Linked DNA regions of Homo sapiens: region 1 is linked to region 2. The links come from fine-mapping of genetic effects on plasma protein levels. Region 2 holds a variant in brackets. A gene starts in the other region. All regions are shown on one strand. Distances are between the middles of the regions.

What was found. PIP is the posterior inclusion probability: the model's chance that the variant is causal. The UK Biobank Pharma Proteomics Project read protein levels with antibody pairs (Olink). The fine-mapping took linkage between variants from a reference panel, not from the people measured, so its PIPs are less certain.
Region 1: it holds the start of GOT1, and the variant in region 2 is fine-mapped to the plasma level of the GOT1 protein (UK Biobank, PIP above 0.99).

What each region holds. Positions count from the first base shown.
Region 1 is chr10:99,423,201-99,431,499 of GRCh38, forward strand. It overlaps GOT1 (glutamic-oxaloacetic transaminase 1), which reads right to left and starts at 7,424. Exons shown (of 9, transcript NM_002079.3): 1 at 7,248-7,424. The coding sequence starts at 7,365. GOT1-DT (GOT1 divergent transcript) reads left to right here and starts at 7,736. Exons shown (of 5, transcript NR_183993.1): 1 at 7,736-8,065. RefSeq lists enhancers at 7,265-7,324, 7,345-7,394, 7,575-8,004.
Region 2 is chr10:17,952,339-17,960,675 of GRCh38, forward strand. It overlaps SLC39A12 (solute carrier family 39 member 12), which reads left to right. Exons shown (of 13, transcript NM_001145195.2): 2 at 853-1,199. The coding sequence starts at 939. Among named protein-coding and RNA genes, the nearest start is that of SLC39A12, 4.6 kb to the left of the region's middle. The variant A/G (reference allele first, on the strand shown) is at 3,316.

The sequences.
Region 1 (8,299 bases), 81 Mb after region 2:
TTATCTTATTATGAATGCAATTGGGTATTTTTCATAAATATGAGCCATTTACAACATCAGTTTAGTGGATAAATAATATTTGTTTTATATATAATTTATTAACTGTGTTGCTTTAAATTATTTGCTATTATAAACATTGTGATAAATGTTCATATATTTACACATATTCATGAGTGTTTTCTTAGGAAAAATATCTAAATGTTAATTTATTAGGTCACAGGATATACAGTAAAAAGACTTTATAAGATCATTTTGAATGATCAGCTAACTCTACCCTCCAGGAATATGTCATCTGCAAATCTGAGAAACATTTCAAGTTAGTAATAGAAATGTGGACAGGGCTACAGACTGACAGAGCCACTGACCAAATGCCTCTGGGTAGGTGAATCAAACAATACTCTCATACCACTCATAGTCTACCCTCCGGCTCTGGTGAATCTAACTCACAATATTTTTTTCTTTTTTTGAGACAGGGTCTCACTCTGTTGCCCAGGTGAGAGTGCAGTGGCACGAACACAGCTCACTGCAGCTTCAACCCCCTGGGCTCAAGCAATTCTCTTGCCTCAGCTTCCCATGTAGCTGAGACCAAAGTCATTCACCACCAGGACCAGCTAATTTTTTTTTTTTAAATTTTTCATAGAAACAGGGCCTCACTTTGTTGCCCAGGCTGGTCTCAAACTCCTGGGCTCAAGCAAACCTCCCGCCTCGGACTTCCAAAGTGCTGGGATTACAGGAGTGAGCCACCATGCCTGGCCCAACTCACAATACTCTCATACCATTCATGATATACCCCTTAGTCCACCAAACTTCTCAACAAGTTCAAAAAGCCTCCTTCGCCAGCTGGGATTTGGTCTGGCTTCTCTAAAGATGTACCAAAATAGCTACTTCCAAGTAAGAGTTGTCCCTAAAGCACATCAACATATCTATGATCACAACGTTACCATTGTTCAAAATATTCTTGAAACTTCTTTTGGAATTGTTTCTAGAGGCAACATCTCATTATTTTGAATAGCCTCAATAGTGCCAAATCTTTGTCCTTTGAAAGTCAATTATTTTTCGGGAATAGCATTTGCATCATCTCCATTGAAAAGAGTGAGTGAATAAGCTGGGTAAAACTTACGGAGAACAATTATTTTAAAAAATGATCCCTTGTGTGGGTCCTACATGCCTTGATAGCTAGTCTAAAAGGGGTTTCTAGAAATCTTGGAACAAGAAAAGCATATTTGAACTACCTACAAAGGATACTAGGTAGATGCAAAAAAATTTGGGATGTTTATAGAAAAACCAGTTCTGTTATGTTTCAGTTCTGTGTCTGGGTGTTATATCTATTCTATAACATTATTAGGCTATGTGTTTATATTTATGATAATATGTCATTCACAAATAATGTGCTATGAATAAATAAAATATGAAAGAGAAAGAAAAGACTGGAATACTGCTGTTCTTACCACTACTGAATACTCTGTGAAACTCTAAAATTCCAATACTACTACTTGGGTTGGGGATGGTTGGAGAGGCATTGTGTCTATACTGTGACTAAAAAAAAACTGGCCAATTTACAACTCCCCTTCCTTCTCCATTGCCCAGTTTTTCCCAGGTTGAGTTCTAGATTTGTTCCTGATGCCTCTCCTAACTGCCCTAGTGAAGCAGAACCAGATTCCTCTTGGGTGACTGGAGCAGTGGGGTCAGGCATTAACAACAACCACTATTCCTGCTGTCCCCAAGAATTTTTATTCCTATTTGTTGGACCCTTGAGTTTCTCATTCACTCTTTCATTCACTCGCTCACATAACAAGTACTTACTAAGTCTCACCATGAGCCAGGCACTGGCTAGTAGAAGCTATAGAGATTGATAAAATAAGATCCCATCTGCCCTCCAAGAAACACAGAGCATAGATAGAGCCTTTAATTCTAATTTGAGGAATCAGAGAAGATTTTACAGAGAATGAAGAATGAAAGATGAATAAGAGTTTAAAAGGTAAACAAGGGAAGAAGGGCATGCGAGAGGGCACACCTGTGCAAGGCCCCAGAGGCCTGGGGAGCATGAGGTCTTTGAGGATCTGCATTTTCATGACTCTGATGTGGAATCCACTAAGGATTAGCTGGGAGTGGCTAAAAGAATCCTGGAGTCTCTTTTAGGGAACTTCAGTTTCAATGGGTAACCACTGAAAGCATTTAAGCAAGAGAGTAACATGAGCAGCTGCACATTTTAATGGGATCATTTGAGTGACACCACAGAAAATAAACCAGAGAGAAGGACAGAGACAGTAGTTAAGAAGGGTGAGTTACTAGAAGTAGAAGGAGTAGAAAGCTACTGCAATATTCCAGAAGCGAAATAATGAGGCCTTGAATTCACACAATGGCAGCAGGGATGAAGAAAAGGGGTGCCATTGGAAATAGATTCGAGGTAGAAAAGACAGAACCTATTGACCAAATAAAAAGACAGGGGATTGGGGAAAGGGCTGCTGTTGACTCCAAGGTCTCCCTCAAGTCTGGATAATGAGTGGATGGTGGTAGTGGGGTCGACCAAGACCTAGAACACAAGGGGAAGATAGAAGAAAAGATCAAGGGGAAGGTGGAAATGATGAGCTGTGCTTTGAACATGCTGAATTTGAGGGAGTTGTAGGATGTGTCCACTGTAGGCCTGACATTCAGAGATGAGGTCTGGGGCATGGAGAAAGACATTGACGGAACCTGAGGGCAGAGAAATAACAACACGGATTTACTAAATACTTTGTACATACAAGGTACTGCACTAAATACATTTCTTTACTCTCATTTAATTTGGATAGCAACCCACAAAATAGATATTGTGATGTCTATTTTAAGGATCTGGCTGCTGCAGCCAGAAAAGTCAAACCATTTGCCCAGGATCACAGAGATAACAAGAGCTAGGCTGTCATACTATTAAGTTCATGGATCCATGTGCTTTTTTAAAAGCAAGAGATGTCTAGAGAAAGCCTGAAGCAAGCAGGCCCCTGGGACCATGTCAGGGGCCTTTTTATCAGCATGCTCCCCAGCTCCATGCCCCACTGCTCTTCTTCCTGGACATAAACCCTTTTAGGGGAGTCACACAGTCTACAGGTGGGCCCAGCAGTCTTGCTTTGCAGAAGGAAAGGAAGAAAGAACACAGATTTAAATGGTCAAACCATCACCCTCATCTTCCTCCTAAGATCGCCACTTCCCTCACCTATCCCCACTCAAGAGCCTATTAGGATACTGGGGAGAAGGCTAGGGGTACTCAGAAACATCTGATAAAGCATATTTTCCCAACTATTTTATTTGAAGATGCTAGGAAACCATGTTGAAAATAAGAAATATTAAAGCTAGCAGAGTTTATCTGGGCCAAAAGAAAGCTAGGCTCACATGAAAAAATGGACTGGAGTCTTTGAAGAAACTTCTTGCTACAGGTTGCACCAGGTTGGATCCATTTCCCATGTCCTTAAAACCACTTCAGTCTGAAGCTTTGAGAAGCACTAAAATGATCAACTTAGAAAGCATTGTGCTTAGCAGTGGAAAATGTGATACTCTCCTCTGTTTACCTATAAGGAAATTATTTAAATCATCACAGCAAGAAGAAAAACTGAGGAAACTAGCTGCAAGTAGGAACTGTCTGAGATTACAGGTGCAGTTTATTCTAAACGTGTCCAAAATCACTGGAACATTAACTAGATAACCTCCATTAGGTTTTATATTAACTTGGGGGAAAAAAAGTATCTTCCCTAAGGTCAATGATTAATTACATTTTCTTCACAAGGGGTATACTTGGGGATGTGTATAAATAAGACTAGGACATATAACGGCTGGAAGGAGACCTTTTATTCTACTCTAATTAGATCCTTATCCAAACACCTGCTATCCACAAAAAGACGGGTCACAGTGATGATCAAAAATAACACTTATATATGACACTTTTCATTTATATATCACATTTCACATATAATTATTCATTTAATCCTCAGACAACTGATGAGGCCAGTAAAATTATTATCCTACGCTACAGTCATAGAATGTGCTAGTGAATTGTGGAGTTGACTTTTAGTACAGTAGAATCTTTTTTATTTATTTATTTATTTATTTATTTTTGAGACGGAGTCTCACTCTGTTGCCCAGGCTGGAGTGCAGTGGCGCGATCTCAGCTCACTGCAAGCTCCGCCTCCTGGGTTCACGCCATTCTCCTGCCTCAGCCTCCCGTGTAGCTGGGACTGCAGGCGCCCGCCACCACGCCCTGCTAATTTTTTTGTATTTTTAGTAGAGACGGGGTTTCACCGTGTTAGCCAGGATGGTCTCAATCTCCTGACCTCGTGATCCGCCCGCCTCGGCCTCCCAAAGCGTTGGGATTACAGGCGTGAGCCACCATGCCTGGCCCAGTAGAATCTTAAGAGTAGAATTTGGGAGAGAGGTCATTCAATCTTGGCTCCTCATTTAACAGATGAGCCCCAGGGATGTTAAACAACCCTTCCAAGTCACATGGCTGGACCACGGTGCTGGGCCTGTACCTAGGTCTCCTGGCTCTTCCCACTACAGTGTACTGGCTACCACCTGGAGGTACCTGAAATACAGGTGTGGGCAGAGACTCTGAGGCCTGAGAGACCTGGCCTGGATTCCCAGCTCTACCACCCAGTGGTCAAATGACCTGGGGCAAATTGCTTCACCTCTCCAGTCTTCGGCTTCCTTGCCTCTAAACAGTAATAGTAATAAACCACCCTCCAGAGTTGTGAGCATTCAGTGAGATTACATGCATAAATAATTTGCTCATGGTAAGGAGTTGGAGTTCCTGGAAAACATGACAAAGGCACCTTCACAGCTGAGGTGGCCGTCTGAGTCAATGACTCCAATTCTGAGTCCATTGCTTCTGGCCTGTGCTGTCGGGGTGCTTTTTCTCTGCAGGAGCAGTTTATTTCTGAACCAAGGTCATAAATTAGTTCATTTTGCAGTTCTTGAACTGAAAATTTTTATTCAATATCTTTTATGAGAATCACTCAAAGAAATGCCAAAACAACAATAACAGTAATACCTAACACTTATATAAATCCTACTTATGTGCCAAATACAGCTATAAACACTTTAAATGTACTTAATCCTCACAGAAACCCTGTAAGATAGTTCAAAGGTAAATTGAATTAATAAAATAAATCTGACGTGGTTTTTTGTTTTTTTTTTTCTTTCTTTCTTGAGACGGAGTCTCACTCTGTTACCCAGGCTGGAGTACAATGGCGTGATCTTGGCTCACTGCAACCGCCACCTCCCAGGTTCAAGCGATTCTCCTGCTTCAGCCTCCCAAGTAGCTGTGACTACCAGTGTGCACCACCACGTCTGGCTAATTTTTGTATTTTTAGTAAAGATGGGGTTTCACCATGTTAGCCAGGCTGGTCTCGAACTCCTGACCTCAGGTGATCCACCTGCCTTGGCCTCCCAAAGTGCTGGGATTACAGGCGTGAGCCACCGTGGCAGGCAAAATCTGACGTTTTAAAAAGATGTATTTAGATTGACAGTAATACTAGTTCTTTGTATACATCCCGCTGCAAAGAAACGCTTGGAGGTTTTGGACTGGTTTTAAATTAAGAGACCAAATGGTGTCCATTCAAATTCAATTTGAGGCAATCTTTCAACATTTCTCCCACTCAGTTGCCTGCTAAAAACATCATTTTCCCTCAATGGGCCAAACTATGTAGTACTGACTTATCTTAAAAGCTTTATGATGAAAAATTTCAAACCTATACAAAAGCTGAGAGAATAATATAACGTATGCCCATGTACCCATCATCCAGCTTCAACAAATTACCCGCTTCAACAAACCATCACTTTTCAATGGATTTTTCCTTACCCCTCCCCATACTCCTTAGTGAAGACTTTTTTTTTTTTTTGAGAAAGAGTCTCGCTCTGTCGCCCAGCCTGGAGTGCAATGGCACGATCTCGGCTCACTGCAACCTCCGTCTCCCGGGTTTAAGCAATTCTTCTGCCTCAGCCTCCCGAGTACCTGGGACTATAGGCGGCCAACACCACGCCCGGATACTTTTTTGTATTTTTAGTAGAGATGGGGTTTCACCGTGTTAGCCACGATGGTCTCATCTCCTGACCTCGTGATCCGCCCGTCTCAGCCTCCCAAAGTGCTGGGATTACAGGCCTGAGCCACCGCGCCCGGCCGACTTTTTTTTTTTTTTTTTAACAAATGCTATGCACAGACAAAACGTTATCTATGAGAAACCTGATTCTGAGCGTCCTTCATGTCACACTCTGCTACAAAATGATTCCACCTTCTCTTTCCACAATTTCTAGTCCTTTTATTCTAAGTCTATTACCTAGCATAAGACTTTATCCTACCCATTTTCATCTCTCTGGCTGGTCTTTGCACGTGGCAAAATCCAAATGGAGAAAATAAGTGTCTGTGGGGCTTCAAACATCCAAATGATAGTGAGAAGAATAACAAATTCATCAGAGAGGGTTAGGGGTAAAAAATTTGAGAGGCACTCCAATATAAATCTTCTTGGCAGATGGGGAAACTGAGGCCCATGCTCTGAGCTGTCCAAGGTACAGAAGAGAATCACTTGAATCAAGAAATGAAGATAGGATGTGTGGAAAGTAAGCTTCTACCATCCATACTTCTCTCCACTCCTTTCCACCATCTCTACCCATTCCTACCACATCTGTGACGGCCAGAACCATCTCCCCAGACCCCCCGGGGGCAGCATTAACCTGTCTCAAAGCATTGTGTAACACCAGCAGATTTTTAAATCCTTAAGGGCAAAATCAAGCCTCAGTCTCCCCCTACAAAGCTTAATAAGGTGGCTGATTGATACTCGGTGGTCACTCAAATATTTACCGACTCAGAACAGAGCTTTCTAGCGTTAAAAGTTCTCCTTTACCCATTTCCTAGCAACCAGAACCCTAAGCCTATCAGGCTTCCTATTTTTCTACCTCTCTCTACAAGCTCCGGCAGCCTCATTTCTTAGGAGGATGCAGTATAAAGAAGGCAGAATGGGGAATCGGAAAGACTGAGTTTGTGTCTTGGCTGCTACACCTGGTTTGTGCGGCCTCGGACACATCGCCCCTTTCCAGGGACTCCACACCTGCATCTGTAAAATGGGCAGGTTTTAGGAAGCCTTCGTGGATCCAGCCTCCTCTCCGGCGCCGCCCTCTTCAGGCAGCGCCACACTGGGCCTCGGCTTCTCCCACAGTCTCCACGACCTGGGTTGGGTCCGCTCCACTCCCCGAGCTGCTCACACTCCAGAGCACTACATCCTTACCTCCCACTCCCAGGTTGACCTTGCGGGGGTCCGGATCCTCCCTGAAGTCGGCAGTGAGCTTGAAGACCAGGACAGGCTGGGCCTGCGGAACCTCGGCAAAGACTGACGGAGGTGCCATATCGAGAGACTAGGAATCAAGAGATTTCACCCCACGCCCGGAGCTGGCAGGTCAGGTCTGGCCGTTGCGACTGGAGGAGACACTCACCTTCACCTAGCCGGCGGGGGCGGGCCCGCGGCCTCCAATGGTCGAGCCGCGTCCAAAGCTTGGCAACGCGATTAACCAATCGCCAGCTTCTGACGACGAAGGCACAGGGGAGAAGGAACGCTATTAGCCAATCCAAGAAAACAATTTATCGGCTGCCGAGAATGATGCAACCAATGCAATTTCCTCCGGCTGAGGCGTGGGCGAAGACTACGGTTGATTGGTAGAGCGTGCTCCTATCGCAGAGGCTGTTATTCCTTGGGTCTCCCGGCTGAGGGGAGGAGCCGAGCGAGCGGCGGGTGTCCCTGAGAGGCCACCTTTCGACCTTCGAGGGCCAGGAGGATACGGGGAGGTGGCCGGAGGGAGTTCCCGAACACAGGTCTTCCTGTTCCCGCCGAGCAGGTGTTGGCGGTGCCAGGCCCGGCCTGGCGGGCCCGGGCTGGCAGCCAAATACCCAGCGTCTGTGCTCGGGACGGGAGTGTTCGTCCAGGACGTGCAGCTCCGGAGCCTGCGCGGGCGACCTTGACCACCTTTGTCGGCTGTTTCCCCCTGAGGGAAGTATACCTGTCCTGCCAGCCTTGGTCTCTGGCAGGGAAGGTCCTTCCAACAGAGAGGGGTGCGCACGAATTCCTTTTTGCCGCTCTTCTATTAATAGTTTGAGATTTTCCTCCCCGATTCCTTGCAGAGAGGGCCTGGTCCTCAAGGACCTCGGGATCTGGGCGCGACGTCCCTTCCCAGCTTCCTCCCGCGCGCACCGGACCAGATCTTGCTGTCGTCAGCTGGCTGGTACCCAAAGTTCCTCTTCGTCAGGCTGTTCCTTCCCCGTTAGAGTCCTTCCTCCCCAGGAGCC
Region 2 (8,337 bases):
AGGTCTCGAAATTCTGTTTTTCTAAGATGCTTCCTGCTCTAGAATCTTGATTCTTAGTAAACTAAAAAAAAGACCTGTGTTTTCTGAACATTACTATTTTCTTCTAGTGCTTTTCCTTGTCTAAAACTCTTTTTTTTTCTTTTTTCTTTTTTCTTTTTTTTTTTTTTGAGATGGAGTCTTGTTCTGTCGCCCAGGCTGGAGTGCAGTGGCACGATCTTGGCTCACTGCAACCCCCGCCTCCCGGGTTCAAGCAATTCTTCTGCCTCAGCCTCCCATGTAACTGGGACTACAGGCACGTGCCACCATACCTGGCTAATTTTTGTATTTTCAGTAGAGACGGGGGTGTCACCATATTGGCCAGGCTGGTCTCAAACTCCTGACCTCGTGATCTGCCTGCTTCAGCCTCCCAAAGTGCTGGGATTACTGGTGTGAGCTACCGCGCCTGGCCTAAAACTTTTAAACTCAACATGATGTTGGTCATTTAGTAGAATTTATTTTCTCTTTTTCATGAGGACCATGAATCACTTGGAGTTCTTTATAATGGGATAAACATAAGGTGTTTCCCAACCTGGGTCCTATAACTTGTACCACCTGTTGGTAAATGGAGAAACTTACGTGACGCTATGTTTAGTTTAGGGAGAGAGAATCTAGCAAGCTTTTTGGCTGCTGTGCAGTTTGAAAGTCTACAGCCATGGTGCTTTCCTGCCATTTGGGGTTAGAAATTACCTACAGACCCCCGCTGTGTAGAAACAGCTTGTCATTGCAAATCAGCTTAGCCACCCAATTAATGAATCCTTTCAAACATGTTGCAGGCACAATAATTGAAGGCTTTATTTTTCCCCTTTACCACAGAAATTCCTTTGGTTACAAGTTTACCCCATAAACGGCAACACACTCACCTCCATCCAAGACAGACTCAAGGTGGAGGAAGCGTGGAAATGTGCTTCCGGACAAAGCTCTCAGTATCCTGGGTGCCATTGTTTCTTCTACTCAGCCGTGTTTTTTCTACTGAGACAGACAAACCCTCAGCCCAGGATAGCAGAAGCCGTGGGAGTTCAGGCCAACCGGCAGACCTGCTACAGGTTCTCTCTGCTGGTGACCACCCACCCCACAACCACTCAAGAAGCCTCATCAAAACATTGTTGGAGAAAACTGGGTGCCCACGGAGGAGAAACGGAATGCAAGGAGATTGCAATCTGGTTAGTGAAATAGAATGGGGTCAGGTATCAGGGCATGTCCAAAAGAAAGCAATGGATTCTATAGGGATTTATTTCAGTAAAGCAAAATCACAGGCAAATCTTCCAATATGCAATTGAGCAATGCATTCTGGTAAAATAATTTCCATATTTGGGATACAGCAAATCAGCATTCTATGTATAGCACCTAGGGACATTTTTGTTGTTGAAAGGATGATGTTTATGTAAGGCTTTCTAGAACCCTTCTGCATATTTAGAGGCATTTATTTGTGAGCGCGAACTTTTAGTCCTCTTTTCTGATTGACTAATCTTTTCTTAAAGCCTTCAGTGCACTTGCACGTGACTAGTTTTAGTTGCTATTTGTTTGCTGGAGCATAATGCGATCTGATATTTGCCCAACATTGGGTTTTTGAGTACTTTTTCCTGGCATGGTATTTTCTAATATTATGCATGGCGGGTAGTTAATGATTGGATAATCATCTTAACGATGAGGAATCTGAGCTGGGGAGACAGATGCTGCAGGTGGAGCTGAAGTCGCACCCATGGCTCCTGAGGCCTGAGTCACAGCCTGATCTTAGCCTACAAAGCGAATCTCAACCCTGATTGGAATCAGCTGCATAGGTTTCCCAGCATACCCATGTTTAGGTGTCATCCTCTAGAGACTGAGATTTTACTTGCCTGGGATAGAACTTTTAAAAGTCTCTCCAGGTTATTATTTATTTTATTTTATTTATTGTGAGACAGAGTCTCGCCCTGTTGCCCAGGCTGGAGTGCAATGGCATAATCTTGGTTCACTGCAACCTCCACCTCGTGGGTGCAAGTGATTCTCCTGCCTCAGCCTCCCAAGTAGCTGGGATTACAGGCACCCACCACCACGGCCGGCTAATTTTTTTGTATCTTTAGTAGAGATGGGGTTTCACCATGTTGGCCAGGCTGGTCTCAAACTCCTGACCTCGTGATCTGCCTGCCGCCACCTCCCAAAGTGCTGGGATTACAGGTGTGAGCCACGGCGCCCGGCCTCCAGGTCACTTTAATATGACGTCAGTGATGTCTAAGAATTTATTCATTAGGGAGGGTGGGGTAGGATGGAAGGAGGTGAGAACTCATGTGTTTAAATGACTACAAAAGAAAAAATAAAACCTACTCCACCATCCCATTCCTGACCCACGAGATTTTTTAGGACGAACCCATAAATACATAAATGAAAGCATACATAAATAAGTAAAACAAAAGCTAACAACCGTCTCCAAAATACATTTTGGCAGACTTTCTCAATCATGCAGAGGCGAGGGAGGGAGGGGAGGGGAACATTTTCTGACCAAGTGTTTTGTTTTTTCATAACAGAAGAGTTCTTGCTCATAGAGAATTTTTCTCTGCTTTGTGTGAGCAATAAATAATTCAATAATTATTAAAATACCCAATGGTTCCCAGAGGAAATGTGTTATAATAGGCAACTCATCTGTGATGACATTAATATATATAGATGGCAACACAAGATGTCCCACTGGAAATAACCAGAAGTCATCTCTTATTCATGTCCTCTGAGGATTCGCTTCAGGGGAATGTTCTCCTTTAATGACGTGAAGTGCCTTATTAAGGCTGGTTGAATAGTAGTTTTGCCAGGGGGGAAGGTAAATATGCAAAATTGTTCTCCATTTTCAGGGCTGGGGGAAGGATTGTTTAGCACTTACTGTTTTCTGTGACAGTATCAGGAGTTTAGCCAATTTGGTCCCCATTTGAATCAGTTCCATTCCTAGGACTTGAAACACCATCTTAAATAGCTTCACCCTCCTTCTCTGTGAAAGAAAGGCAGGTGAAGCAGAAGTGAGTCTCAGCTTTACCTACTCAGAAGGCTTCAGTTCACCCCAATCACCCATCAGGAAGGAGCTTAGGAAATGTCTCCCATCATTCATGAAAAGAGGGAGGAAACAGAGTCCTCTGAATTTCACAAACACGCGGGTTCTGGCGCGAACCACAGAGCTTCAGCTTGTGGCCGAGTCTGTTCTGTCATCTGAGGGACTTTGTCTGCTGACAGGCAGGGTTCATGCTACAAATTCTATCGTAAAAAGAGAGGTTAAGGGGGTTTCTTCATATCCCTAAATGTCTGAAAAAAGAGGGA[A/G]GTAGGTATCTTGAATTTGTTGGGAGTAAAAATGCTTCCAATTTTACGTCTGTATAAAAAGTGAATTTTTTAAAAAGCCAATGTGAAGTATCTGAGAGCATTGCACATTTAAAATAAATTCAGTCAAGCTGCAGTCTTTGAAAATGAATAGTTCTGGGCTGATCCTGGCTTTTTCTTTCTTTAATGAGAAGGGGTAGAATATAGTTTTAATGAACATCGTGAGAGATTAAATAACTCCAAAACAATACATTCTACTTCAATAATTATGAGAACCATAACCCTACACATGTTTCTGAAAGGAAAAGGGCCCTTTTCTGGCACCTTCTAGTGTTGAGACATGTGGAGCCTCAGCTTCCTCACCCTGAAGGCTGGGATAATGAGCCCCTCCTCAGGGAGGTCTGTGAGGACCACATGGACAAACACATGTTCCTCAGGCGCCAGATGTCTGTGAGGGTCAAATGGATATATATGTGCCCCTGAGGGAGATATCTGTGAAAATCACACGGACATGTGTGCTCCCCGGGGAGATCTCTGCAAGGATCACATGGACACATATGCCCTCAGGGATCAAATCTCTGAGAATCATGTGGACATAGATGTATTATGTCCCAGGAAGATCTCTGTGGATCTCATGGACATGTGCTCCTCAGGGAGATCTCTGTGGGGATCCCATGGACATACATGTTCTTAGGAATCAGATCTCTGAGGATCTCATGGACATACATGTACTTCTTAGGAATCAGATCTCTGAGGATCTCATGGATATACATGTTCTCCTTAGGAATCAGATCTCTGAGGATCTCATGGACATACATGTTCTCCTTAGGAATCAGATCTCTCAGGATCTCATGGACACATATGCAGAAAGTCAGATATAGGAGCTCAAGTTCCTTCTGTTCCCTGTGCCTCACAGCAATGTCTGATTCCTCCTTTTCCAGGGACACTAGAGCAGCGCCATTCCTCAGAATCTCCCACCCACCTGTGTCCCAGGCTCCCCTCCACTGTCCTTGATTCTGAGGATTTTAAACGAAGTTCTCCAGGCAATTCTTAGACACATTCAAAGCAGAGAACCACTGCTTTAAGGGTCTCCATTTAATTCACACCTGGCCCTAGCCCCTGACATAACTGTCATGGAATAAAGTGTGGAAAACACCCAGCTTTGTCTTATTATCTAACAATTTCATCTTAACTCTTCTCAGTTAAAAACTTCTTGTCAGTCAGAAGACCCACTAAATCTAGTACAGACCCTAAAGAGCCAGTACCTGCCATCGGCAACATCCTTCCAGCTCTTTGTCAGGAAAAAAACACATACACGTTCTCTCTTATATTTACAATCAATTGTTAGCCACCCCCCACCTCCGGAAAAGAAAAAAACACCTTATAGAAACCTGAGAACTTAAAAGAGACTGTCTTCTTTTAAGTTCTCAAGTTTCTATAATATAAAATTTCCCATTGTTTAAAATCAAATGTTAAACATCTTTCAGTCTAAAACCCCTAAAGTTTATCCTGGAGGCCTGACAGCTGTCTTACTGATGTAGGAGAAGACAGCTACCAAGTTGTTTTTTGTCAGCTGAGGCTCTCACCTGGCATAGATCATAAGCAAAGCTGAATTTCAAGGCTGGGTGAGACCATGTGATGTGGCTCCAGGATGTGGTGGACAATTACTACCAAGTGTCCGAGTAGCCTGTTTAGCTTGAAAGGGGAGCCTCTCCTTGCATTTTAATCAGTCTTTTCCCAAAGTTTATTTCCTTATAAAGTCATTAAAACTAATTCCCAGAATTTATGAGATTCCCCCCGCCCCAAACCTTTTTCCCCCACCTGACAAGATTAAAAGGAAAATCAATGGATTATTCCTGAATGAGTCCATTCTTCTTAAACAAAGAATTGCTTCACCAGAGGCAGCAGCCTTGGACAGATCTTGATGCCTGTGGGGTGGCAGTATTTGCGACATTTTGCTAAATATCCTCTCCCAAACACAACTGAGCCAACTTCTAAAAACATTAACAACAAAACAAATCTAGTGGCGTCGAACTGAAAATTCCAGCTCTGTCCTCATCCAACAGCCCCAGTAGAGCTTTTTGTCATATCTATGTCCAGGGGAAGAATTCTTATTTTATGTTAGCTTTTCTGAGGCTTCCACCTGTATTCTTTCCTCAAGCCACAGCCTTCTGTATTAAAATAAATTCTTTACGATTCAAATATTATAAAAGGGAGGAAGGTTTCCAGCCCGTGGTCATTTGATTCACAATTAAGCTTTGATTTAGCAGGCCTCAAAAAATCAAAGCAAATGTGATGCAACACGTGTTCATTCAAGGTTACCAAAATCTCTGTTCCGACAAAAGAAGATGCTTCTACAGCTGTTTCAAGCTTTCCAAAGCCAGAAACCAATTGTACCTTCCATATTGTATGCCTTTTATACACAGTTGTGGAATGCCTACCCACACGATTATAGTGCGGACCCTGCTCTCTGCTGTTCCGTGCCTTGCATTCCAATTCCAACCCTGGAAAGATACATGGCAAAGACACTGAGGAAGAATGATGCATGGACAGGAGTCTCCGCATCTCAGATGGGTTGAAATATGGTCACATGTTCTGCCATGTGCTCATACACCAAGCCCTGCCCTGGTCTCATGGCCCCATGAGCGTCCTACTCCTTGCATCATAGACATTCTTCTTCCTACCTACCCAGCCCCATCAAACAACCTGAGTAGCACTTGAAAGTATAACATAAACTCATTCAACGCTCTCGTTGTACCATGTCCTTGTTCTGATTGATGTTAGACTTGGACCAATCTCTTAGCCACCTAACTGACCTCTACTCCCATCAAATAGGAGGGAGAGAAAAATTACCGGTCAAAGTGGTTGCCTAACAAGTACATCAGTGGGTCCACAGCCTGTGTTCTCCATGGCACAAAAGGAAGGAATAAAAGAATGGGTCCTGTTCTTCGAAGAGCAGGAATTGTGACTAACAGTGCTCTCCACCATCAGCTGTGTAGCTTTGGGCAAGTTTCTTATCCGCTTTAGTCTTGGTTTTCACACATTCTATGAGTAAACTTTTCTCATGAAGAAAGGTGTAATTCATGTGTTCTTTGCAGTATCCTTGCATACCGTACACAAATGTATCCATTAATTCATTGTGCATTAAATAATTGAGTAATTGATCTTCTAGTTGCTTTATATTATAAAAATCAAATATTTAGAAATATTTGGTGGATTATTACATAGGCTGGAGACATTTTGTTTTTCACACTTAAAATAATAATATAGGGTTCTTATTAAAAAATTCATTACTTTATGCATTTTTCAAAACCAATTAGATTATGCACCAAGGAATAACTGAATGCAAAAGATACTCTGCACATTGCTGGGCACATGGCTACCAACAAATTGTAGCTAATAGTACCAATAGTTTAGTTTCAGGAGGCTATTTTGTACAAAGAACCTCTTTTATTTCCATTTTTTTATTTACACTTTTTATAAAAGTGTAAGTTTTTCATTACACTTTTATTTCAATGGATTCGCTTTTTGGGTCTTGGTGTCAGCCTTGCCATCAGCTACCAAGGTGTGGACTTTTCTTCTGGGCTACTTAGGAAACAGAAAAGGGATGCTGAGGTTTTACAGGTGGAGCCTAATATCCACATTGAGAGTTGGTCTTAGTGGAACCCCTGGGTCTCCTCTGTTTGAGTACTTGACCCCCTGCAGTTGGGTTCAGGAGAGATTAAAGTCTGTGTGGTTTTATGAAGAATGTGATTATGCTTTGATTTGGAGATGGATGACATTTGTTTCTTCCTGACTCAGATGATTACATAGCAGATGTTACACAGTGGGTTGTACAGCAGACCTTGAATTAGAACCCCCAAAACTTCCACTTCAAAGAAGACTAGATTAAAAGATATTGTAGTACAATATCCCCACCATGGGACAAATCTGTCTGGGAGTCACGACAGGCGTTTCTCAATGCTTTCACTCTGTGGCTATGTCGTGGGGCTGCTTCTCAGATCCTGTGAGAATTCTCAGGAGCTCCCCAACTGTCTCTGCAGAAAGGCAGCTTCCCTCTTGCTGAGAAAGCTTCTGGTCCACAATTCCTGTGTCTTTTTCTCACTGTCCCACAACATTTATCCGAATCCCTTATGTCAAGTAAACTTCTCAGATTGCAGGAGCTGGGCATGTGCTTGTGGCTTGTGAAACAAATAAGGCAGCACAGTGGAGGGGAGGAAAGACTTTTCCTCTAACATCTTAAATTCTGTAGCTGGGGCTTGTGAACGAAATGGACAAAAGATGGATTAACAGGAGAAATAGCACACACATTTGATGTTAATATTTTTATGTGGAATAGGGGCATCATAGAAAAAGTGAAAACTCCAAAGAAGTGGTTAGACCCAGGGGTTTATATACCATTTTAACAAAGAGTAATAAATTGTGGGGATGTGACAAGAGTAAGAAAAAAAGTGAATTTGGACTAGAGATGGTAAATTGTGGGAAAGTGACTAGGAAATATGTATGGGAAACCAAAAATTTTTTTTAACATTATACCAATGGAGGATTATTTTAGTAAAGTTCGTTTGTATAGGTTCATCTCAGCATTAATTCCCCATCTCCAGTGATAAGAATGTTCTCCTCTTCCTGATACAGCAAGGATACCTTTCTAATGGGAAACTTATGCCCTGCTTTTAGATAGTAAGGCGAAAGGCAGAGAATCCTTCCTGTACCTGCTGTTTGTCAGTTGCCTTCAGCTCAAAATAATCAATATGCTACAGTGGCATATTTTGGGGCAGTATGTTCTGATTCCCTTCAACAAAATCATTTTTGGCAATTTCCCTAAATAGGATAGAAGAGGGGCAGATGGAAGTCATTTGTAAAATTTTTATACCTCTTAAGTGCCAGGTATTGTGCTATATGCTAAGGATAGAACTACGCAAAAAGCAGACGAAATCTGCTGTTAGTGGACCACAGGTTCTCATAGAGAAGAGAGAGAATAAACAAGTAAACAAAGCAATTTTACAATACGAGTGCTATGAAGAA